7 linked regions of the Homo sapiens genome follow. The protein of the gene in region 1 interacts with the protein of each later gene in a biochemical or structural test. Each region holds a gene or a part of one and is shown in the gene's direction. Other genes may lie near its edges.

Region 1 (3,069 bases):
ACGCCTGTTGATGGGTCTGATCTTGACATTGAAGTGCTCAATTTATGTCTCTGTGTAGTTAAGACCTAGCAAAACCTGGCTTTAAAAAAATGATTTCTAAATTTTTTGGAAACAGTTGCCTTAGAGTGATTTTGTTGATGACAGTATTTTAAGTTATCAAAATAAATACATTGGCTGTATAGAAGTAGGTGATTTTGAGAAAAAATTGTTTGAATGAGTTCTTTTTTCCTTTAGGCTGATAGCCCTGAAGAGATGCACAGTTGGATTAAAGCAGTCTCTGGCGCCATTGTAGCACAGCGGGGTCCCGGCAGATCTGCGTCTTCTGTAGGTTTCCTGCTCTCTGGGGTGATACTCCCTTGCGTCTCCCCCATCCTATCAAATTTCCTCTCTCCCAATCCATCCGGTTTCTTTCTTTCTTGAGATTTATTTGCATGTTGACTTTTATACCAATTGGACTTGCAAAAAATAATGCATTTCTAATTTAATGCTTCCTTGTAGTATTATGTATACATAACTTTCTGTGCATTGTATTGTGTTAAATGCACAAGTAGGGCAACTAAAGAATAAACATTTCCTTGCTTTGTTTTAGGAGTTCTTACTTGTCAGTAGCTCTAGATTTGGCATAATCTGACAGATTCTTAGTATGGTGTGTGATCAGGATCATGTAAGACTTTTAGTTGTAGCGTTACACAGTTTTGTGAACGTCTCAATTTCCTCTTTACTTCCTCTGATTTCAGTTCAGGTTTTTTGGTTTTGTTTTGTTTTTTACCTTTGGCTTAACCATGCCATCAGATCACTGAGCAGCTGGGGCCTTAAATACAGTTCAGTGCTCCCAGTGTTTCCATTTCATGTTTTAATTCTCATTTTAAAACCTGCTTTAACAGCCTGCTTCTGAAAACTACCATAATTATCTTTGTGGTAGTATGATAATAAAATTGAAATACAACTAAACATTCTGCTCAGAAATATTTTTTTAAAAGATTTTTCTTGTGTTCAAGTACATAAGAATTAGATTTGCATTTGGAATACTTTGGCCACTGATCTCAGGTCTGAAAATTTAAAGTATCTTAAAATGTAACACTGCCATCTGCGGAAAGTAGTCTCATATGTAGCATGATAGCCTTTATTATCTAGATTTACTATGACATATATGCTAGTTACTTACACTTTTAATATTTTTTTCTGATAGTATTATAATACCGCCTTTTATTAGTTTTCTGGTAGTGATAACTACAGATAAATAAATAGAAATCAATGTTTCTGATTTCTTAGTTGTTAAGTCATTCTCTCTTTATATCCTTTTTGAAATATCTAAGAAGTCACTTTCATAGATGTTCATTTTGTAACTGCCTGTATTTTATGTGACTTTTTCAGCAGTCAAGTATGAGACTCTCTGCAAAAACAGTGTCTGTTGGGAAGAGGAAAAGTTGGAGAAGGATGTTTGTGTTTTGTGCTTTGTGGTGGGGGCAGATTGGACTATCTAGCTATGACTGTCAGCACAACTTTCTCTTTTCCTCCCTCTACCCAGTATAGGTTAACTCTAATCTTAGCTTTGCACTGTGTTCCAGATGCGGCAGGCCAGAAGGCTGTCGAACCCTTGTATACAGAGGTATACATCAAGAGCTGGTGAATGCAGCACGTATGTGGGCTCTCACGCAAACGTGCCTTCTTAGTGGAGGGCCCAGACTTACTACTTACAACTGATCATAGAAAGTTGAGTTAACCAAACTGCCTTTTGCAGTTATCATAACTGATTTTGTCAATACTAACGCAAACTGTTTCACTGTAGTCATCAGGTTGGATATGTGTATTTAAAAATAAAAAATAAAACATACAACTTTACTAACAGAAAGAGACATTAACATATAAAAATTAATATACTCAACTGCTGCAAGAGTTTCAATTTTATATTATGTATTTAAAAATTTTTAAGATACAATACTTACGAAATGCACCATTGTTCTAATAATATATGCAAACTAATGCATGCATATGCATTGGATAAACTGTACATTACTATAGTTTGCATGGCATTTAAAAATCTCTGAAATTTAGCCATCTAATAGGACTCTGTAGTGTTTTGGTAATTTGTAGCACTTTGATTTCAAAGCCACTGGTATCATAAATGAATATAATATACTAGTATATAGCAATGTATTTAGAATGGTCATATTTAAGGATATTTTCAGATTTGATCTAGTTAGAAGCATATTGAAATTAACATTCTCAACTACTAATTATTTCACCACAGTTTAAAATGTGATAAATGTGTACCCTTTGTTACCTTTAAAATATTAAGCCATATGAATATATGACCTATTCAGAACTAAAATTAAGTAAAAAATGAAAAGACTGTGCTATTATTGGTTGCAGTGAAATTCAGGGAAGTAAAAACTAAGTCTTATCAGCAGAATAATGTTTGAAAGATGATTCGTGCTTATTAAAGAAATATGGCCTTTCATTGTTATAGTCTATATTTTAATTTTTTTCATTCTAAAATATGTGGGATAATTCCTAGTGTTGACTGAGAATATACTCTTAAATAAAATGATACAGCTGGGAGGTTCTCTTTTAAACACAGTTCAGTTGCAGCTGGAACACTGTATTTCAGTTTAGGTTGGCTGAATCTTCAAAGTGTCATAGGCTGCCAAATTCAGCTTTGGTGACGGAACTGGTTTCCTAGTGGAAATGGTTTTTGGCTATCATTGCTTTAAACTCACCTCTAAAAACGCGTTGCTTTGGGAAAGAACTTGCACATTTATGCTGCATGGCTTCTGCTGCTGCCTTTGTGTGTGTGTGTGTGTGTGTGTGTGTGTGTGTGTGTTTTATTTGTTTTTCAGAGAATCAAGTCTCACACTGAGTTACTAACCTGGTCATGAGTGACTGACCGTGTCTGACTGCCACTCCTTTTTGCAGGAGCATCCCCCCGGTCCTTCAGAATCCAAACACGCTTTCCGTCCTACCAACGCAGCCACCGCCACCTCACATTCCACAGCCTCTCGCAGCAACTCTTTGGTCTCAACCTTTACCATGGAGAAGCGAGGATTTTACGAGTCTCTTGCCAAGGTC
Region 2 (3,500 bases), on another chromosome or scaffold:
TGCCCAACATTGGCTGGGAGGGCTGGTTAACGTCCAGCATCCAAATCTCTTGGTCTCACTCGATGCCACACCTCTTGCCTGCCCCCATGAGGCAAAAACTGGTGATTCACAGGTCACTTGCCGATGCTCTAAAAAAGAGCCTTTGTTTTTGTTTTTGAGACGGAGTATCGCTCTGTTGCCCAGGCTGGAGTGCAGTGGTGTAATCTTGGCTCACTGCGGTCCCCTTCTCCCGGGTTCAAGCGATTCTCCTGCCTCAGACTTCTGAGTAGCTGGGATTACAGGCACCTGCCAACATGCCCAGCTAATTTTGTATTTTTATTAGAGATGGGGTTTCACCATGTTGGTCAGGCTGGTTTGGAACTCCTGACCTCAGGTGATCCGCCCACCTTGGCCTCCTGAAGTGCTAGGATTACAGGCATGAGCCATCGCCTGTATTTTTAATAGACTAATTTTTGTATTTTTTTTTTTTTTGGGACAGAGTCTTCTCTGTTGCCAGGCTGGATGGAGTGCAGTGGTACAATCTCAGCTCACTGCAACCTCCGCCTCCTAGGTTCAGGCAATTCTCCTGCCTCAGCCTCCTGAGTAGCTGGGACTACAGGTGCACGCCGCCATGCCTGACTAATTTTTTTTTTTTTTGTATTTTAGCAGAGACGGGGGTTCACCATGTTGCCCAGGCTGGTCTTGAACTCTTGAGCTCAGGCATTCTGCCTGCCTCGGCCTCCCAAAGTGCTAGGATTACAGGCATGAGCCACCGCGCCCGGCTGTATTTTTACTAGAGACAGGGTTTCACCACATTGGCCAGGCTGATCTCAAACTCCTGACCTCAAGATCCACCCACCTTGGGCTCCCAAAGTGCTGGGATTACAGGGGTGAGCCACCATGCCCGGCCCGGAAGGGCCTTCTGTGAGTGTGAAGGTGAAGTAGTATTAGTCCTTCTAGAGACTCATAGAACCTTAGATTCCCAGCCTGATCCCAGACATTACCTGAAACGTGTGTATATGTTTCTAAGTGTGCGCACGTGTAGATGACATGTAAATGCAAGTGCTTGTATGTATATATGAGAGCATTTGCATGTATGAGTATAGATTTGTACATGTGTGTTTGTTTATATGTTATTTGTATGTGTATGCACATATGTGTGTGCATGTGTGTTTTAACATGTACATGCCTGAGTACCTACATAGGTAACCTCAATATAACTGGGGTTCCATATGGCCCACTGTCAGTGCAGTATCCCAGTCATAGGGATACAGCCTGGCAACCAAAATATAATGAAAACTGCTTCAAACTTTTACTCAGTGTTAGGATTGCACTGGGCTGCAAGTACAGAAACTCCAACAAGCAATGACTTAAATAAAAGGGGTTAATTTTCCCACATGTTTAAAAAGAAGTCCAGGGGTCAGCTATTCAGGCTGCTGTAGATGCTCAAGGATGCCATCAAGGAACTAGGCTTCTAGCTTCCTGCTCTACCATTTTAATTATGGGCGGTTTTCTTCTTCGTGGAGGCAGGATGGTGGCTGCATCCCAAGAATTGTGTTCATATTCCAGGCAGAAATAAGACAAAAGCCAAAGAGTCTTTTCTGCTAGTATTTTGGCTATCTGTTGCTGTATCACAAACCAACCCTAAAATTTAGTGGTTTAGAAAACAATAATTTATTATTTCTTTTTGAGATGGGGGATCTCGCTCTGTCACCCAGGCTGGAGTGCAGTGGTGTGATCTCAGCTCACTGCAACCTCTGCTTCCCAGGTTCAAGTGATTCTGGTGCCTCAGCCTCCCAAGTAGCTGGGACCACAGGTGCCCGCCATGACGTCTGGCTAATTTTTTGTGTTTTTAGAGGAGATGGGGTTTTGCCCTGTTGGCTAGGTTGGTTTTGAACTCCTGGCCTCAAGTGATCTGCCCGGCTCAGCTTCCCAAAGTGCTGGGATTACAGGTGTGAGCCACCATGCCTGGCCTCAAGCCTCTTTAGTTTTGTTGTTGTTTTGTTTTTCTGTTTTTTTTTTTTTTTTTTTTTTTTTTTGGTTTTTGAGACGGAGTTTCGCTTTTGTTGCCCAGGCTGGAGTGCAATGGCACGATCTCAGCTCACTACAACCTCCACTTTCTGGGTTCAAGCGATTCTCCTGCCTCAGCCTCCCTAGTAGCTGGGATTACAGGCATGTGCCACCACACCCAGCTAATTTTGTATTTTTAGTAGAGATGGGGTTTCTCCATGTTGATCAGGCTGGTCTTGAACTCCCTACCTCAGGTGATCCACCCGCTTTGGCTTCCCAAAGTGCTGGGATTACAGGCGTGAGCCATCACACCCTGTCTGTTTTTCTGTTTTTTTAAGATGAGGTCTTGTGCTGTCATCTAGGCTGGAGTGCACTGGCACCCTTATAGCTTACTGCAGCCTCAAACTCCTGGGCTCAAGTGGTTCTCCTGCCTCAGCCTCTAAGTAGCTGGGACTATAGGCACGTGTCACCATGCCTGGCTAATTAAAAAAAAAATTTTTTTTTCTTTTTTAGAGATGAGTGTCTCACTTTGTTGTCCAGGCTGGTCTCGAACTCCTGGGCTCAAGCCATCGTCCTGGCTCAGTCTCCCGAAGTTCTGGGATTACAGGCGTGAGCCACCATGTCCAGCTTAGTTTTTTTTTTTTTTTTCCCCTGCTCTTATTAGTGAATTAGTTTGGTTCTGTGCAACAAGGAGAACCTGGGAGCTGGCCCAGAAGAGGATGTTCCTTAGAAACCAGGAGAAAGGGGCAAGATTAGGAATAGCCACACAGCAATAATTTAGGCCCTATTACACCATCATGCATGTTTCAGTGTGTGTGTATATTTGTGTGTATCTGCATACGTGTAGGCTGGGCACGGTGGCTCATGCCTGTAATCCCAGCACTTTGGAGGGCGAAGGCGGGGTGATCATTTGAGGTCAGGAGTTCGAGACCAGCCTGGCCAACTTGGTGAAACCCCATCTCTACTAAAAATAAAAAAATAAGGCCAGGCATGGTGGCTCATGCCTGTAATCCCAGCACTTTGGGAGGCTGAGGCAGGCGGATCACGGGGTCAGGAGATCGAGACCATCCTGGCCAACATGGTGAAACCCCATCTCTATTAAAAATACAAAAATTATATGGGTGTGGTGGCGTGTGCCTGTAATCCCAGCTACTTGGGAGGCTGAGGCAGGAGAATCACTTGAACCTGGGAGGCAGAGGTTGGGCCATTGCAGTGCAGCCTGGGTGACAGAGCGAGGCTCTGTTTCAAAAACAACAACAAAAACCCCACAAAATATATGAACACGTGTGTATATGTCACACTCGCTTGTTCCTATGCCCCATGAAGCCCCAGCAACTGTGGCTGGAGCCCAGCAGTGAGGGTTGCTCCTGATTCTCTCACGGACATCCCCCTGGTTTCTCCTGGTTTGGTGGTGGGTGGGGTTTCTTGGGCCAGGGTTGGGCAGCTGCAGCCTAATGGTCAGGTCCTTGTCTCCACCCATTTGTGCCTGCAGGTATCTGGAGATCTGCTCG
Region 3 (3,500 bases), on another chromosome or scaffold:
CAAGGAGACCCTGGGCGAGGGGGGTCATTCCCACCTCCAGACACGAGTGCTAGACTGCGTTCAGTTTGTGAAATTCACTGAGCTGCATGCTTAGAATGCTGTGTTTATGTTCTATTCCAATGCAAAGTTTGATGTTTTATTTATTTAGAGACTGGGGCTCGCTCTGTTGCCCAGCCTGGAGTGCAGGGCATGATCCCGGCTTACTGCAGCCGCGACTTCTAGGCTGAAGCAACTCTCCCGCCTCTGCCTCCCGAGTAGCTGGGACTACAGTTACTCACCACCATGCCCAGCTAATGATTTTCTAATTTTTTTAGAGATAGGGTCTTGTTATATTGCCCAGGCTGGTCTCGAACTCCTAGCGTCAAGCAATCCTCCCACCTCCCAAAGTGCTGGGATTGCTGGCATGAGCCACCATGCCAACATTTGGTGGAATTTTTTTTTAAGTGATGCCTTCAGCAAAGCAGAAATTGCCCTTTCTCAAAATGATGAGCTCATGGTTGAGAACCTTGCAGATACTCCTGGGACCTGCCAGCCTCGCCGCCTCACCCTTCATGTGTTCCCTACCCTCTTACTTGAAGGCTGGCTAGGGTAGCAGGTGTTTTGGGGTGTGTGTGTGTGTGCGTGTGTGTGTATGTGTGTGTGTGTGTGTTTGAGACAGTGTCTCACTCTGTCACCCAGGCTGGAATGCAGTGGCACCATCTCGGCTCACCGCAACCTCCACCTCCCGGGTTCAAGTGATTCTCCTGCCTCAGCCTCCCGAGTAGCTGGGATTACAGGCGTGGGCCACCGCACCCAGCTAATTTTTATACTTTTAGTAGAGACAGGGTTTTGCCGTGTTGGCCAGGCTGGTCTCGAACTCCTGACCCCAAGTGATCGGCCCGCCTGGGCCTCCCAAAGTGCTGGGATTACAGGCGTGAGCCACCACGCCCGGCTGGTAGCAGGTGTTTCATTCAAACTCATTCACGCCACCTGGTTCACCCCGTCCGGGGCCTCATCTCTGCCCATGAACATCACTGTGGTCAGCAGAGTCCTGGAGTGTCCAGACTCATGTGGGGGTCTCATCTCCTGGATCAGCGGCAGGTGGCTTTCAGGGCTCCCGCCCCGCTATAGACCCCAACCCTGCATCCAGGCCCCGCTGCAGGCACCTTCACAGGAGCGGGAGGTGGGTGGGCTGCTGCTGACCAAAGCCGCTGTGCCCGCAGAACAAGCACTGCCTGCTGGAGGCTGGGATCGGCTGCACAAGAGACTTGATCAAGTCCAACATCTACCCCATCGTGCTCTTCATCCGGGTGTGTGAGAAGAACATCAAGAGGTTCAGGTAGGGCTCCCAGACCCCTAAGGGCTGTCCCCTCCTGTCCCTAGCACCCCACCAAGCCTCCATGGATCGCAGGAGGCCTGTGTGCCCCCACCTCATGCACCCCTTTTGTAAACCCTCACCAAGTACGGGACTGACCTTGCAGAGCTGATGCCAAGGACAGCGGCCGAGATGGTGACTCACATATGGGGCGCATCCCAGGGGACAAGAGCTGGGAGGGACGGGGCGGAGTGCCCATCACCCAGGGTGGTCCGGGAAGGCCTGGGGTATCCATCAGCGAGACCCATGGCAGTGAGGGGGGCCTAGGAGATGAGAAAGAAGACGCAATCTGGGCAGCAGGGGAACAGCTGGTGCTCAGACCCTGAGACAGATGTTTGGGCGGAATGGTGAGGGACGGAGGGGTGAGGGGCGGAGTGGTGAGGGACAGAGGGGTGAGAGGCTGAGGAGTGAGGGGCGGAGGGTGAGGGACGGAGAGTGAGAGGCTGAGGGGTGAGGGGCGCAGGGGTGAGAGGCAGAGGGTGAGGGGTGGAGGGGTGAGGGGCGCAGGGGTGAGGGGCGGAGGGGTGAGAGGCTGGGGAGTGAGGGGCAGAGGGTGAGGGACAGAGGGGTGAGAGGCTGAGGAGTGAGGGGCGGAGGGTGAGGGACGGAGAGTGAGAGGCTGAGGGGTGAGGGGCAGCGGGTCCAGGCCATGCAGGGCCACGGGAGGCTGCGACATCTTGTTCTGGGTGCATCTGGAGGCCACTGAAGGTGGCATGGTCCACTTTAGGGTATAAACGCACCTCTCACCTCTGGACACGGGCAGGGTGGCGGTGTGGGCCGGGCTTCTGTCTGAGAGGCGATGAGAGGCAGTCTGACTCCGAATCCGTGTTCAGGGTCGAGCCTGCAGGATTCGGGAAAGGGTTCACTCTGGGGTTCCAGAGAACCAGAGGCTGGGCGCGGTGGCTCACGCCTATAATCCCCACACTTTGGGAGGCCAAGGTGGGCACATCAGCTGAAGTTGGTAGTTTGAGACCAGCTTGGCCAACATGGTGAAACCCCATCTCTACTAAAAATACAAAAAAAATTAGCTGGGCGTGGTGGCGGGCACCTGTAGTCCCAGCTACTCAGGAGGCAGAAGCAGGAGAATCGCTTGAACGTGGGAGGGGCAGGTTGCAGTGAGCTGAGATCGAGCCACTGCACTCCAGCCTGGGCGACAGAGTGAGACTCCATCTCAGAAAAAAAAAAACAAAAAAAAAAAAACGAAAGGACGGCGCTGAGGTTTGGGGCCTGGGTGATGAGGACAGACTGGCCCTTAAGTGGCTTCATCTCGGATCCCCGCCCCTCCTCGCACGCACCTGCAAAATAAATGTCCTGCCACCATTTTGCAGAGGGAATCACAGACTGAGAGTTTAGGCCCATTCATTCCTTTTCACCAGATACTCACTGAGCCATTGTGAAGGGTTAGGCTCTGGGGAACGCAGCAGTGAGCAAAAGAGACGGGCATCCCCCTCGATACCTCACACCCGTTAGGCTGGCCAGGACCAAAAGGACAGAAACTGACAAGTGTTGACGAGGAGGGTAGACGTCGGAACCCGGTGCACAGCTGCTGGAAATGCAAAAGAGAGCGGCCACTGTGGAGGACAGCATGGCGATGCCCCCAAAAATTAAAAATAGAATACTATATAATCCAGCAACCCCACCTGCGGGCATATCCCCAAGAGAATTGAGAGCAGGGTCTGTAAGAGACATATACACGCCCGTGTTCACAGCAGCGTTACTCCCAATAGCCAAAACGTAGACGTCACCTAAGGGTCGGTCTGTGGGGAGTGAATACACACAATAGGGCCCATCCATACAGGCTAGGAAGGTGGCAAGAGCTGAAAACCTTGCAAACTGTTAACAAAAAAAGAGTTGAAACAAAGAAACAATAATACATTTAATGCATGAGAAATACTAGCATGGTACATACCCCCTTCCCTGATCTGTCCTGCCTGGGAATGTGTTTATGGTGCAGTGTGTATCACAACAAAAATACTGTATGGAGTATTTTTTTTTTTTTGAGACGGAGTCTCACTCTGTCACCCAGGCTGAAGTGCAGTGGCACGATCTCGGCTCACTGCAGCCTCCACCTCCCAGGTTCAAGAGATTCTCCTACCTCAGCCTCCCGAGTAGCTGGGATTACAGGTGCCCACCACCATGCCTGGCT
Region 4 (3,500 bases), on another chromosome or scaffold:
CGAGACCTGGACTGGACAGGGCTGCTGAGGCAGAAGGCCGAGTTCATCCCCCACCTAGAGTCGGAAGATGACACTAGCTACTTTGACAGTGAGCTGGGACACCAGGCACGACCTGGGTCGAGGGGTGGGATCCGGGAAGAGGGACCCTGGGGTAAGTAAAGCCTGGGATAGGGCCTGGCTAAGTACCAAGATGTGATGCCTAGGTGCGAAGGTGGTATTTTGGTGGGGGCGGGGCCAAGTGGGGCGGGGCTGACATACAGGCGGGGCTCAGGCTGAAATGTAGGTAAGAACCTGAGATTGGGCTAGGTGTGGGGCCTGGCCTGGGTGAGTTGTGAGTGTGGGCCTGGAACTGAACTAGAGAGAGGTACTAGCGCTCAGAATGGCCTGGGGTGATGCCAGGGTGCAGAGCACTGTAGGTGGAGCGTGGCCTCTTTGGAGGCGGGGCTAGACGGTGCCACTGAGAATGGGGCAAGGACCTTGCCTGGGAGCGGAGCCTAAATTAAATACACTAATGAGGCAGGGGCGTGGCCTGACCTGAAGACTTGTAAACCCGTCTTGAACCAGGACTGGGCTCCTGTGGGGATGTGATATGAGGAGGAACCCCGTACCCTCAGTCACAGCCCATACCCGCTCCCCAGCCCGCTCAGACAGGTATCACCACGTGAACTCCTATGACGAGGATGACACGACGGAGGAGGAGCCCGTGGAAATCCGCCAGTTCTCTTCCTGCTCTCCGCGCTTCAGCAAGGTGGGCCAAGTCTGGGTGTGGGACAGGGCGAGACCCCAGGAGGGATGGGGCTTGGAGAGACAGTGAGAAACAGGTTCCCTGGTGCCCAAGGTCTCAGGAGCGGGAAGTTATTGATGGGGCGGGAGTCTGGAAGGTGGTAAGGCCACGCAAGAGGCAGGTTCGGGAGTCTATGGGACGGGCCTTTGGCACTGAGTGGAATCTAACAGGAATCAGGACAGTTGTGCAGATTGAGGCCATGGTGGGGCGGGGCTAGGTGTGGGTGGGGCGGGGTCAGGACGTGGGAATGAGGCCAGCAGCGAAGGCGGAGTAAAGCCCAGCGAAGTCTTGCTTTTATTTATTTATTTTTATTTTTTCTAATAACGGGCAGAGAAGCCATAGGCCTTGCTTTGAGAAGCAACTTGTAGAGGCGTGCAGGGCCTAGCCTGGGCTAAGGAGACATAAATTAAGGGGGTTGCTGGGAAGATGGGGCTGTGTAGAGAGCAGATTGGTCAGGGCATCGTCGGGGCAGAGCCTAGAATAAAACGCAGTGCCTAACTTTGTGGTGTGGGGCCTGAACTGAAGAATTGTAGGTTGGGGGATCATGCACAATTGGGCGGAGCCAGGCCTCGGAGGGTGGAGTGCGTTTTGCGGGGGATCCACTGCCAGGAAGCTGATTAGCTCCGGAGTGAAAGTGGAACCCGGGCTGGACTTGCCTCCCACCACCACCTACAGGTGTATAGCAGCATGGAGCAGCTGTCGCAGCACGAGCCCAAGACCCCAGTAGCAGCTGCAGGGAGCAGCAAGCGGGAGCCGAGCACCAAGGGCCCCGAGGAGAAGGTGGCCGGCAAGCGGGAGGGGCTGGGCGGCCTGACCCTGCGTGAGAAGACCTGGAGAGGGGGCTCTCCGGAGATGTGAGCAGGGGAATGGCGGAGTTTGGGGGCGGGGTCGAAGGGGGCGTGTCTTCCATAACCACGCCCCCTCCATGCAGCAAGCGATTCTCCGCGTCCGAGGCCAGTTTCCTGGAGGGAGAGGCCAGTCCCCCTTTGGGCGCCCGCCGCCGTTTCTCGGCGCTGCTGGAGCCCAGCCGCTTCAGCGCCCCCCAAGAGGACGAGGATGAGGCCCGGCTGCGCAGGCCTCCCCGGCCCAGCTCCGACCCCGCGGGATCCCTGGATGCACGGGCCCCCAAAGAGGAGACTCAAGGGGAAGGCACCTCCAGCGCCGGGGACTCCGAGGCCAGTGAGTGCCCTATCGTGCTGCCTTCCCCAATCTTCCCCAATGTCCTACTGGTCATATAGTGAGCATCCCACGAGCCTGGTGCTGTTTATGAAAGATCTCAGGTCCTATTCACATTGCAATTTGGGATTTTTTTTTTTTTTTTTTTTTTTGAGACAGAGTCTCACTCCATCACCCAGGATGGAGTGCAGTGGCGTGATCTCGGCTCACTGCAACCTCCACCTCCCAAGTTCAAGTGGTTCTCGCACCTCAGCCTCCCGAGTAGCTGGGATTACAGGCGCGCGCCACTACCCCCGGCTAATTTTTGTATTTTTAGTAGAGACAGGGTTTCTTCATGTTGGCAAGGCTGGTCTCGAACTCCTGACCTCAAGTGATCTGCCTTCCTTGGCCTACCAAAGTGCTGGGGTTACAGTCGTGAGCCACCACACCCAGCCCAATTTGGGATTCTTAACATTAGAAACACCCCAATACCATGGTCAGTCAGTGATACAGACCGATACAGACTATGTCTCTATATGAGGAGCAGTGAGGCATGCAGGTTACCTGCTCAGATGAAACTCACCATCCATCAAGGGTAAAAAGTGGAAAGAGCATTCCAGGCAGGGAAACAGTATGTGGGAAATCCCTGGCCTTGGACTAATTCCTAACACACTTGCTTTCTGTTGCAGCTGACCGTCCACGCCCAGGTGACCTCTGCCCACCCTCGAAGGATGGGGATGCATCAGGCCCAAGGGCTACCAATGACTTGGTTCTGCGCCGGGCGCGGCACCAGCAGATGTCAGGGGATGTGGCAGTAGAGAAGAGGCCTTCTCGAACTGGGGGCAAAGTCATCAAATCAGCCTCAGCCACTGCCTTATCTGTCATGATTCCTGCAGGTAATGCTGGGCCCCACCTGGCAGGGGAGGGGCTGCCCCCCATTTGAGGCAGGACAGACCAATGAAAATGCTGCATTTTCCCTGTCCACCGTGATTGGCTCCAGGCTGGACCAATGAGAGGCTGCTCTGCCACTGCCTTGGGAGGAGGGAGGAGCAGATACAGGGAGATGTCTATCTTCTTGGTTCTGATTTCTGACCATGGTTGTGTGTCTGTAGTGGACCCACATGGAAGTTCACCCCTTGCTAGTCCCATGTCTCCACGATCTCTGTCCTCCAACCCATCCTCACGGGACTCCTCACCCAGCCGGGACTACTCACCAGCTGTCAGTGGGCTCCGCTCCCCCATCACCATCCAGCGCTCGGGCAAGAAGTATGGCTTCACACTGCGTGCCATCCGTGTCTACATGGGTGACACGGATGTCTATAGTGTCCACCACATTGTCTGGGTGAGTACTCATGGGTGGAGTCTCCATCACAGAGTGGAGGGTGGTGGGGAAAAGGCCCCTCCAGCTCAAACCAGTTAGCCTGGGTGAGACACCTCTGTGACCCTCTATGCCTCTTCCCTCTCTAAACCTGTTTCTTTTTTCTTTTACTTTTTTATTTTAGGCGGAGACTCACTGTGTCGCCAGGCCGGAGTGCAGTGGCAGGATCTCGGCTCACTGCAA
Region 5 (3,500 bases), on another chromosome or scaffold:
ATGTCCCAGCCCCGTAGAGGAAGTGGTGTGTACCGTGTGGCTTCACCCCCGAGCAAGGCCTCTCCTTGCAGATGCACAGGCAAAGCCTCCTCCCCTTCTTCCCACAGGGCCTGCCCCGGTCCCTGCCACCATCCCCAGCCTCTCCTACTTCCCCCATCACAGAGACCCTCTGAGCTGGTTTGGGGGAGCCCTGCCTTCAGAACCTCCCGCTGTGCAAGCTGCCCAATGTCTGATCGCTCACACCGAATCCTGAGGGCTCATCCCAGATTGACTTATATCCCGCAGAAGCAGACTGAATGACTCTTCTGAAGTTTAGAGTGTTTCTCCCATCCACCTTTGCTGGCCCTTTGGTCCCTGGGTGTGCACAGAGCCGGCAAACAGCCTGATGAGGAGGCCCCGGAACCAAGCCTCATTCCACCCTGATAGGGATCAGACGGCGGGTCCAGGCGGACACGGAGCCGGCAATGAGCAGTCACCAGAGGCCGCAGGCCAGGGCTCCAGGGACTTGCTTGTTTTCACGGTACTTTCCCTGAGGCCTCCAGCCTCCCTGTGACGAGGCTCCACTGCCCTAGGCCCGGCCCTGGGGACTGAGCATCTGGTGGCTCATGGGGAGATCCCAGGAGTGATTCCTGCTCCAGCACCGCCTCCCTGCTGGCTGGCTCGGCGCTTGTCTGGTCCAAGCCCCTGTCACTAGGCGTCACGGCCCCTCTGCCCTCCCCATCCCGGGCTCTCCAGCAGAGGTCGTGCTCCTTGAACAGGGGTGTGAGAGCGCGTGACGGGCATATAGCACCTCAGCATCACATCCTCCACACCTGCTGGGAGCTCCCTGGGCTGTGGGCTGTGTAGCCCATGTTTCTCAAAACAGCCCTGGAGGCACCACCCATGCAGGACCCACAGCCCTGGTTGCCACCCTGTCCGGTGCCCCGTGCTGATGGACCTCTCACTGCCCCCTTGGCAGCACACTGACCCCTCACTGCCCTTCCCTCGAGCCCCGGGCCCTGAGACATGTCATTGAGGAAATTATAACTGGATGCACTAAGTGGCACGTTGCTGGCCTTCCAGGAGGTAGGGATGGGGGCAGCATCTTTCTGGAAGGCCCCAGCCACCAGGCTCTGAACCAACTAATTACTGACTCCAGCCCGGCTGGGAGGCCGTTTCTGCCCTCAGAGCCTCCAGTGACTGATGCTCTGAGTGGGTGGGTGAGACCCAGCAAAGATGAGACAGATGCTTTTCCAGCACAGGCCTCCCGGCTGTGACCCCTGACCTGAGGTCTGAGTGTGGGCATGGAGGCCAGTGGGCAGCCGCGGGCATTTTCTGCAGACCCCGCAGGTGCCTGGCCCTGTGAGGCACCCTGGGGCTTCCGCAGGCAAAACAGGTGCAGTTCCTACTCTGGGGCACACACGGAGTGGGTGTGGCAGAAGCTGGCTGCGGATGTGAGTGGACAGATGCTGGGGTCACCGTGTGGGGTGGCCAAGTGGCCAGATGCCCAGGCTGCCTGGGGCAGACCCCTGCTTTGCCCTTTGCCTGCCCGCCTGACCTAGGCAAGTAGTTCAGCGTCTCGGGACTCAGTTTTCCCACCATAAAGACCTGAGAGTTAGGGACGACAGTAGTTTCTTGTGGCTGCCATAACAAAGTACCACAGACTGCATGGCTTAAAATGACAGAGATGTTTGCTCCCATGGTTCTGGAGGCTGGAAGTCCTAATCAAGGTGTCAAGGTCCTAATCAAGCAGGGCTGCTTTCTTCTGGGGGATGTTGGGGGAGTGTCCCAGGCCCCTCTACTGGCTCTAGTGTTTTCCGCAGTCCTTGGTACGCCTCGGCCCTTAGACCCCTCTCTCTGCTCTGTCTCCATCATCTCATGGCCTTCCCCTCTGTGAGACTGGACTTCCCTCCCTTAAAGACAACACAGACACACTCTGATGTCACCGTAACTTCAGGACACCTGCAAAGACCCTGTTTCCAAATAAAGTCACATTCACAGTCACATGGGGTTAGGACTTGGCCGTATCTCTTGGCAGGGATACAGCTCACCACAGCACCCCCCTTGCAGGGTGCCCATGAGCATTCAATGGCCTGCCTGCCTCAGAGGGAGCACAGGGTGGCATTCGCTGCCATCTCTGGTCCTGTGGGTCACAGCGAAGCTCCTGTACTTTGCAGAGACTGTCACCTCCCTGCACGTGCCAGACGCTCCCATCCCTCCATGCTTTGTCTCTTGCTCTCACCTGCCTGCACGTGCCAGACGTTTCCATCCCTCCATACTTTGTCCCTCGCACATTTTCCTTGCTCATCTCTACTAAGCAGCCTCAGGGAGTGAGTACCTGCTCTGGGCTGGGCCCCACGCTGGGGTCCCGAAGGTTCCCACCCTGGAGAAGGTCCCAGGCTGTGTCTGGCATTCAGCCTCCTCCCCTGCTGGATGTGGGGCTGTGGTTTCTACTCAGAGAGCTCTGGTGAGAACTGGGGATTGTTGCCCATCGGCAGACACCAATGCAAACCCAGGCCAGCTCCACACCGTTCACAGAGGGCAGGGCCCAGGCTGGCCTCATCTGTGCCTCTGCACCCCTGCCCTCGGGGTGTCCAGGGCTCGGGTCCTGCATCTGCCTGCTGCCAGCACTGCCACATTTGGGGCTTTAGGCAGCTAGCCTGGGGGTGAGGGTAGAGGGAGGTGGGAATAAGCCTTCTCAGCCCTCCCAGCACTCACCCTGTCGGGATGATCAGGAATCTGCCCCAGCCTCTGGGGAGCCTCCCTTCCTGGGTACCTGCTGCAGCCCTGCAGGATGCTGTGTGTGCAATGGGGCTTTTCCCCTAGGGCCAATTATTGTCCTGTTTGTTGAGAGGCGTTTTAGAGCCCAGGCATCACCACTCGGCGGAGGAGGTGTTGTTGTCCCATTTCCCAAATGGGGAGACCAAGGCTCAGAGAGCTTCACTGACCTGCCCACGGTCAGGCAGATAATAAGTGGGTCCTGGACTTGGGATTAGCATCCTGGTCTGTCTGGCTCCGTGCTCCGTAGTCAGGATGGCGAGTGCAAGCTGGGAGTCATCTGACATGTCGCAGGCAGCCTGTCTCATCTCAGCAAATTGCAGCGAGAGGTGATCATCATCACCTCTTTATGGCTGTGAATGGGTGCAGGCGCCGGTGACTTGGCCAGGTCACAGGGCCAGGATTCAAATGGGAGCTTGAGGGACTCCAGACCTGTGTTCTGTCAGCCACACACTGGCTCTGCTCCTCGCTGACCAGCCCCACCACTGCGCCTGACTCCCCCGCGTCCTAGCCCCACCCTAAATGCCCGCCTGTGTCTCCCTGGCTGCAGACACCCGCTGTTTGGCCGCAACGTGCCCCTGTCCAGCGGTTCTGGCTTCATCATGTCAGAGGCCGGCCTGATCATCACCAATGCCCACGTGGTGTCCAGCAACAGTGCTGCCCCGGGCAGGCAGCAGCTCAAGGTGCAGCTACAGAATGGGGACTCCTATGAGGCCACCATCAAAGACATCGACAAGAAGTCG
Region 6 (2,923 bases), on another chromosome or scaffold:
CGTGGGAACTCCACCCAGCCTGACCCAACACTGCAGGTACGACTCGCTTACTGGGGTCCCGGCCCAGCAGCGTGCCCTGGCCTTCGAGAAGGGCAGCGTTCTCTTCAACATCGGTGCCCTCCACACGCAGATTGGGGCGCGCCAGGACCGCTCCTGCACCGAGGGTGCCCGCCGCGCTATGGAGGCCTTCCAGAGGGCCGCTGGTGAGGGCGGCCCGGGCCGCGGTGGGGCACGGCGCGGTGCCAGGGTGTTGCAGAGCCCCTTTTGCAGGGCAGGAGCTGGGGAGTGGTTAGGACATCAGTCCCTCAGGTAGGGGGAGTGAGCACATCAGGTCCATATGTGTCCCAGGAGCATCCCTAGCTGGCCGCCCTGAGTGCTGCATGGGGCAGAGATGGGCAGGTACAGGGCCCTGCCTGTGTGAGCACCCCTCCCTCCGCAGGGGCCTTCAGCCTCCTGAGGGAGAACTTCTCCCATGCGCCGAGCCCAGACATGAGCGCTGCGTCCCTCTGCGCACTGGAGCAGCTCATGATGGCCCAGGCCCAGGAATGTGTGTTTGAGGGCCTCTCACCACCTGCCTCCATGGCCCCCCAAGACTGCCTGGCCCAGCTGCGCCTGGCGCAGGAGGCCGCCCAGGTGAGCTCGGGCACCCGTGTCAGGATGCAGGGGGTGGGGCCGAGCTGGGGTCAGAGCCCAGGTCCAGGCATGCGTGAGCTCTCCCACCTCCTTCCTTGTGTGTCAGCCCCGAGCCAGCTGTTGTCCTGCTCCCTGGGGGGGCTGGTCAGGAACCTGGGGACCCGAGCCTCTGCCTCCAGGGGATGGCACAAAGCAGCAGGAACTGAGGTGCCAGGGAGGCTGCTGGGATGGTGGTCGGAGCAGGTGGAGGCTGGGTAGGGAGAAGCAGGCACCACCTGGAGAGTGGGAGGCCCTCGCGTGCCTGCCACATCCACCGGCAGGTGGCAGCCGAGTACAGGCTAGTGCACCGGACCATGGCCCAGCCACCCGTCCACGACTACGTGCCTGTCTCCTGGACTGCCCTGGTGCATGTCAAGGCCGAGTACTTCCGCTCCCTGGCCCACTACCACGTAGCCATGGCCCTCTGCGACGGCTCCCGTGAGTGCCCACCACACTTGCCCATGGTACTGCCAAGGCCCCCCCGCGCAGGGCTCACAGCCTCTCTGTCCCCCAGCAGCGACCGAGGGAGAGCTCCCCACGCACGAGCAGGTCTTCCTGCAGCCCCCCACCTCCTCTAAGCCCCGAGGCCCTGTGCTGCCGCAGGAGCTGGAGGAGCGCAGGCAGCTTGGTAAGGCGCCCATGGGTGGAGTGCCCTGGGGCTCAGATGGTCACCAACGGTGGCAGGGTGTCCCCCACCACCCTCATGCTGTTTGCCACCTGCTGTCCCCGTGCTGACGAGTTGGGCCACCTACCTATCCCTGGATGGCCTGTGCCTGATGGGTGACGGCCCAGCGCAGGGGCCCCAGGAGTGCTGGGCAGCCTCTGAGCAGGTGGGAGACCACTGGGAGCAGCTCATCCCTGGCCCCTGCTTTGCACGTGGCAGAGCCCTCCTGCACAGCCAGCTCCTCACCCCCGTGGCGCGCACCCCCAACGAAAGTGGCTGTGATGAGCCCCACAGCCCTGGCGTTGCCCACTCCTTCTGCCACGTCCCAGGGCCCACGGGCCCACATGGTGTGTGACATCCCAGTGCCCCGCGTGCAGGCAAGGCACACCTGAAGCGTGCCATCCTGGGGCAGGAGGAGGCGCTGCGGCTGCACGCCCTGTGCCGCGTCCTGCGCGAGGTGGACCTGCTTCGGGCTGTGATCTCCCAGACGCTGCAGCGCTCACTGGCCAAGTATGCGGAGCTCGACCGTGAGGATGACTTCTGTGAGGCTGCCGAGGCCCCGGACATCCAGCGTGAGCAGCCAGGGCCTGTCTGGGTGGCTGCATCCCTGGCCAGGGTGGGGGCCTTCGTCCTGGAGAAAGGGAGGCTGATTGCATTAAAGATGCAGTCACCACGATGAATTAAACAGCAGTAGCACTTTCCAGGCCACGATCACAGGGACCCACAGAGCTGCTGGGCCCTTCAGGGGCCTGGGGGATGACCACGCTCCTCAGCACCTCCCTCCCTGCACTGGCCTCCTACCCTGAGGGGAAGCCCACAGACCCAGGACAGGCATGGCTGGGACTTCAGGGAGGGATTTTGGGAGCCACTTGGGGCAGAGGGGGCCGTGTGTTCAGGGCACACCTGGGGCAGCTCCTCCCACCATTGCAGAGTGGCCAGGCCTGGAGGTCAGAAGCGGGGCCTGTGTGCACTCAGGGTCATGCCCTGCGCCCTGGAAAATCCCCGAGGCAGGTCTCCACAGTCTCCCAGCTTAGCTCTGCTCTTACACCCTCTCAGCTAAGACCCACCAGAAGCCAGAGGCCAGGATGCCACGCCTGTCCCAGGGGAAGGGGCCTGACATCTTCCATCGGCTGGTGAGCACACCCGTCCCCAGGCACCGCCCAGCATGGGCAGCTTGGGCTGTGTGGCTCTGACCAGCACATGGCCTCAGACAGGCCATTGATGGTGGTCCAGCCCTCCCCACCCACCTTGTGGAACCCCACGGTGTCCCTCGGTGCACAGGTTGGATGGATGTGCTAGTCAGGCGGGGTCTCCTCAGTGTGTGGCCCAGCTGGGCCTCTGACCTCTGAGCCCCTGCCAGGGGCCCCTGTCTGTGTTCTCAGCCAAGAACCGGTGGCGGCTGGTGGGGCCCGTCCACCTGACCCGAGGAGAGGGCGGCTTTGGCCTCACGCTTCGGGGAGACTCGCCTGTCCTCATCGCTGCCGTCATTCCAGGGAGCCAGGCCGCGGTAAGGGCCCCGCCGGCCCCCTGAGGCTGAGTCCTTGGTGCCAGCCAGGGTGTCCTGTCCCCACCTCACCGTCCAAGTCT
Region 7 (3,368 bases), on another chromosome or scaffold:
CTGAGCAGCTCTTTGGTAAATGGGAATGAGTGACGGTCAGGGGAGGTAACAGTGCCCTGGCCAGGCCTCCTCCCTGATAGAGCCAGAGGACAGAGAAAGGGCTGAAAGGAAGTCACTCCTAAGGGCTCCGTCGTACTTGAGTGTTGTGGCCTGGAGCATCTGCTGAGGGAGGTTGGCAGGGAGCGGGGTGGCGGGGGTGGCTGAAGGCCCAGGGGCAAGAGGCTGGGGTGCTGCAGCCTGGGGGGTGTGGCTGGCCAGAGGCGCTGAATGCCAGACCAAAGGACCTGGGCTACTGTGAGAGGCTGGGGGCAAAGGTCAGAGTTCCAGGAACCTCCTCCTCCTTCTGCTTCCAGGTGACCCTGCACAAGGACCCCATGCGGCATGACTTTGGTTTCAGCGTCTCAGATGGCCTCCTGGAAAAAGGTGTCTATGTCCACACTGTGCGCCCTGATGGGCCAGCCCACCGTGGAGGCCTCCAGCCCTTCGACAGGGTCCTGCAGGTAATGCTGGGGCAGGGGCTCCATAGTGGGGGTGGCATTGTTTCCTAGCCTGAGGGTGGGGAAAGAGCCTGCATCTATCGCCTGTGAAGAGGGCAGGACAATGCAAGTCTGAGTCAGGTTAGCCAAAGTTGCATTGCGGGCCCCAGCACCCTCAGCCTCAGAGGCTGAGCACACACAGACCTTTCTTCTTACACCCCATGCCCATTGTGGGCTGGTGGGGGCCTTCTTGTCCCGGGCTGATGGAGCATCCGCCCATCTTGGAATTGACCCTCTGAGACACGTGGCCTCCTCAGACTCCACAGCAGAGGAGACAGACTGGAAAGTCACACGTGGATTTTTTCCGCCTTCACCCAGAAGCAACACTCATCACCTTGCTTCACAGCCGATGGACCAAACCCCTCATGTGACCTTCCTAACTAACTGTGAGGGAGCCTGGGAAGCGTGGGACATCGTGTACTGGGCACTCCGTGCCGCCCCTTCTCATGCCCTGGCTATTTTTGCTCCCTCAGTGTGTTTTTTGCCATATTTATATGAAATTTACTCAATTCATGTTTTCTCTAAATTGATGGCACTTTTTCAATTTACATTTGACTTTGAAAGGAAACTTTTTGTCTCCATTAGGAGTGAAAATCTTGCACCCCTTGCTTTGAAATAGAAAGTGGGTGTAAAATGCAAATAAAATAGAAAGAAGACAATGTCACATCACACAGTTCTAGGCAGGAGGCTCTCTGAGTGTGTGGTCTGCTCTTTCATGTGAGAAAGGGAGAAAAGCAAGAGTTAGAGGGGTATGAAAGGTATACCTGCCCCTTCCTAGAACTTTCTCTTTGATGAAACCTAACAGAAGGACTGAGAGAGAGTTAGAGGAAGAATGTTCCTCTGTGTGTGGTGCTGGTGATGTCAGGGCTTGCGTCAAGGCTGGGGCAGGACCCATCTTTAGGACATCACATGCCTCTTGCTCCCTTCAGCGCAGCAGGGCTGACATCTCGGTTCTGTTCCCTTGCTTGTGCCCCATGCAGGTCAACCACGTCCGTACACGGGACTTCGACTGCTGCCTGGCGGTGCCACTCCTGGCCGAGGCGGGTGATGTCTTGGAGCTGATCATCAGCCGCAAGCCGCACACGGCACACAGCAGCCGGGCCCCCCGATCGCCAGGCCCCAGCAGTCCCCGGATGCTCTGAAGTCAGCATGTGGGCCGAACTCCTAAGGGGCCACCCAGGCAGATCCTGGCTCCCAGACACGTAGCTGGGCTGGAGAAGCGGCCACCCACTCATTCATCTGTTGGTCTGGCAGACTCTGAGCCTGGGATGATGCTTGGTCTCTGTTCCCCAGGTCTGTGGTGACTGGGGTGCCAGGCAGGGAGGTCCTGCCCTAGTTGGAGTGACAGCTGGGGTCTCTCGCCAAGTTGGGTCTCCAAGATGCCCAGAGGAGCCTCCCTTAAGAAGGGTTGGCACAGGCTGCTCAGCCGAGAGGAGAGAGGCCTGGGGGCTGTCCCAGGTCTCTGTGGGGCCTCCTTGGAGAGGTCGAAGATGTAGGGAGCACTTCCTCCCAGCAAAGCCATGGAGCTGGAATGAGCTGCAAGGAGGAGTGAGTTCTCGGTCACAGGAGGTGAGCAGGCAGGAGCTGGATACCCCAGCGCAGTCATGCATTGGGGTATGAGGCATTCCCATGATGCGTGCACACGCGCTTGGGGGTTGGCTTCCTGATGGGGAGCCACTTCATCTAGAGACTCGGCCACCAGGAAGGATGCTGCTTCGGATGGGAGCCCAGCTCCTTCGCTTCTCCAGAATAGGGGTTTGGGGCTTGCTAGTCCTGAGATTCTGAGATTCCCAGAATCTGGTCCCCACTTATGAGACTCTTAAGTTGGGGCGTCTGGGATCCCAGGAAGTGCTGGCCCTTTGATTCTGAAAGTGGGTGATTCTTTGATTTCAGCATCTCAGTCTGAAGCTTCTGGGACTTGAGACTGTGGTTCTGGGCCCATTGGGCAGGCTCTATGGGCCTTGGGCTCTCAGCCCTCCTGCTTCTTCTGTAGGCCGTGTGGCCACTGACCCATCTGCACGTCCGCTCAGCCCAAGCCCCTCCATGTGGGAGGGGTCATTTTGGGGCAAAAGACCCTGGAGCTTCCATTCACCTGCCATCCAGTGAAAATTGAAAAGCGATGGACGCAGGACCTGTGAGGCGGTAGCGCTCCTCTTTACAGCCAGATCAGTGGAGGAAGAGGAGAAAGAGGGAGGGAGATGGGAGAGAAATGGGCCAGAGAAAAAGATGGGACACTCTTGCCCAGTGGAGGGTGTCCAAAGTGCTTATTCAAAGAAGTCTATTCCCACTTGAAATCTGGAAGCACCAGCATCCCTTAAAATCATTGTCCTCAGTGTCCACAAATCAGAGACCCTCTTCATTTTGAGAAGGGTGTGGGCCTCCCCTGGTGGTCTAGTGAGTGGTGCCTGGGATGGAGTGGGCGGGCAGGTGTAGCCAGGGCTGGGGATGTGCTTTGCCTGGCCCAGTTCTCACAGGGGTCTCAGGAAAACGGGGCACCCACTCCCACCTCCATCTGTCTCCAACCTGGGGTCCCTGGAGGCCAGAAAAGTGCTCTTCCATTTGAGGGAACAGATGAGGAGTCAAGAGGTCTGTTCTTTTCACCCTGGGTCTGTTACCTGTTTGCTGTGTGACCCTGTCTGGGTTGGACCCCCAGCCCCTCTGGACGATCACGGGTGGACAGTCTGAGCAGACACAGGCCTCCTGGTCAGGGCCGGAACCATCTCTGCCGACCCACCAAGGCCCCCTTGGGGACCTGCCCACGCTGTCTCCTGGAGGCCTGCCTCCCTTACCCCTCCCCTCCACTTCGCTGGGCTCTGCCCCTTGGTGCCCTCC

Evidence for each region.
Region 2: the proteins of PLEKHA1 (region 1) and SNTA1 interact in a test that uses a peptide from one of them, tested with the Homo sapiens proteins (one large-scale study listed by IntAct).
Region 3: the proteins of PLEKHA1 (region 1) and CARD11 interact in a test that uses a peptide from one of them, tested with the Homo sapiens proteins (one large-scale study listed by IntAct).
Region 4: the proteins of PLEKHA1 (region 1) and MAST1 interact in a test that uses a peptide from one of them, tested with the Homo sapiens proteins (one large-scale study listed by IntAct).
Region 5: the proteins of PLEKHA1 (region 1) and HTRA3 interact in a test that uses a peptide from one of them, tested with the Homo sapiens proteins (one large-scale study listed by IntAct).
Region 6: the proteins of PLEKHA1 (region 1) and RHPN1 interact in a test that uses a peptide from one of them, tested with the Homo sapiens proteins (one large-scale study listed by IntAct).
Region 7: the proteins of PLEKHA1 (region 1) and GRIP2 interact in a test that uses a peptide from one of them, tested with the Homo sapiens proteins (one large-scale study listed by IntAct).

What each region holds. Positions count from the first base shown.
Region 1 is NC_000010.11:122,426,708-122,429,776, forward strand, and holds part of PLEKHA1 (pleckstrin homology domain-containing family A member 1), read left to right. Parts: intron 1-234; coding exon 235-324; intron 325-1,374; coding exon of another isoform or gene 1,375-1,439; intron 1,440-1,550; coding exon of another isoform or gene 1,551-1,673; exon of another isoform or gene 1,674-1,713; intron 1,714-2,916; coding exon 2,917-3,069. UniProt on the Homo sapiens protein: Binds specifically to phosphatidylinositol 3,4-diphosphate (PtdIns3,4P2), but not to other phosphoinositides. May recruit other proteins to the plasma membrane.
Region 2 is NC_000020.11:33,412,764-33,416,263, reverse strand, and holds part of SNTA1 (alpha-1-syntrophin), read left to right. Parts: intron 1-1,629; exon of another isoform or gene 1,630-3,481; coding exon 3,482-3,500. UniProt on the Homo sapiens protein: Adapter protein that binds to and probably organizes the subcellular localization of a variety of membrane proteins. May link various receptors to the actin cytoskeleton and the extracellular matrix via the dystrophin glycoprotein complex.
Region 3 is NC_000007.14:2,907,868-2,911,367, reverse strand, and holds part of CARD11 (caspase recruitment domain-containing protein 11), read left to right. Parts: intron 1-1,202; coding exon 1,203-1,318; intron 1,319-3,500. UniProt on the Homo sapiens protein: Adapter protein that plays a key role in adaptive immune response by transducing the activation of NF-kappa-B downstream of T-cell receptor (TCR) and B-cell receptor (BCR) engagement.
Region 4 is NC_000019.10:12,866,015-12,869,514, forward strand, and holds part of MAST1 (microtubule-associated serine/threonine-protein kinase 1), read left to right. Parts: coding exon 1-88; intron 89-638; coding exon 639-748; intron 749-1,459; coding exon 1,460-1,638; intron 1,639-1,715; coding exon 1,716-1,963; intron 1,964-2,628; coding exon 2,629-2,835; intron 2,836-3,051; coding exon 3,052-3,281; intron 3,282-3,500. UniProt on the Homo sapiens protein: Microtubule-associated protein essential for correct brain development. Appears to link the dystrophin/utrophin network with microtubule filaments via the syntrophins. Phosphorylation of DMD or UTRN may modulate their affinities for associated proteins.
Region 5 is NC_000004.12:8,283,254-8,286,753, forward strand, and holds part of HTRA3 (serine protease HTRA3 isoform 1 precursor), read left to right. Parts: intron 1-3,307; coding exon 3,308-3,500. UniProt on the Homo sapiens protein: Serine protease that cleaves beta-casein/CSN2 as well as several extracellular matrix (ECM) proteoglycans such as decorin/DCN, biglycan/BGN and fibronectin/FN1.
Region 6 is NC_000008.11:143,378,876-143,381,798, forward strand, and holds part of RHPN1 (rhophilin-1), read left to right. Parts: intron 1-36; coding exon 37-203; intron 204-439; coding exon 440-633; intron 634-953; coding exon 954-1,110; intron 1,111-1,186; coding exon 1,187-1,300; coding exon of another isoform or gene 1,301-1,456; exon of another isoform or gene 1,457-1,713; coding exon 1,714-1,908; intron 1,909-2,392; coding exon 2,393-2,469; intron 2,470-2,696; coding exon 2,697-2,843; intron 2,844-2,923. UniProt on the Homo sapiens protein: Has no enzymatic activity. May serve as a target for Rho, and interact with some cytoskeletal component upon Rho binding or relay a Rho signal to other molecules.
Region 7 is NC_000003.12:14,491,975-14,495,342, reverse strand, and holds part of GRIP2 (glutamate receptor-interacting protein 2), read left to right. Parts: intron 1-353; coding exon 354-500; intron 501-1,516; coding exon 1,517-1,678; 3' UTR 1,679-3,368.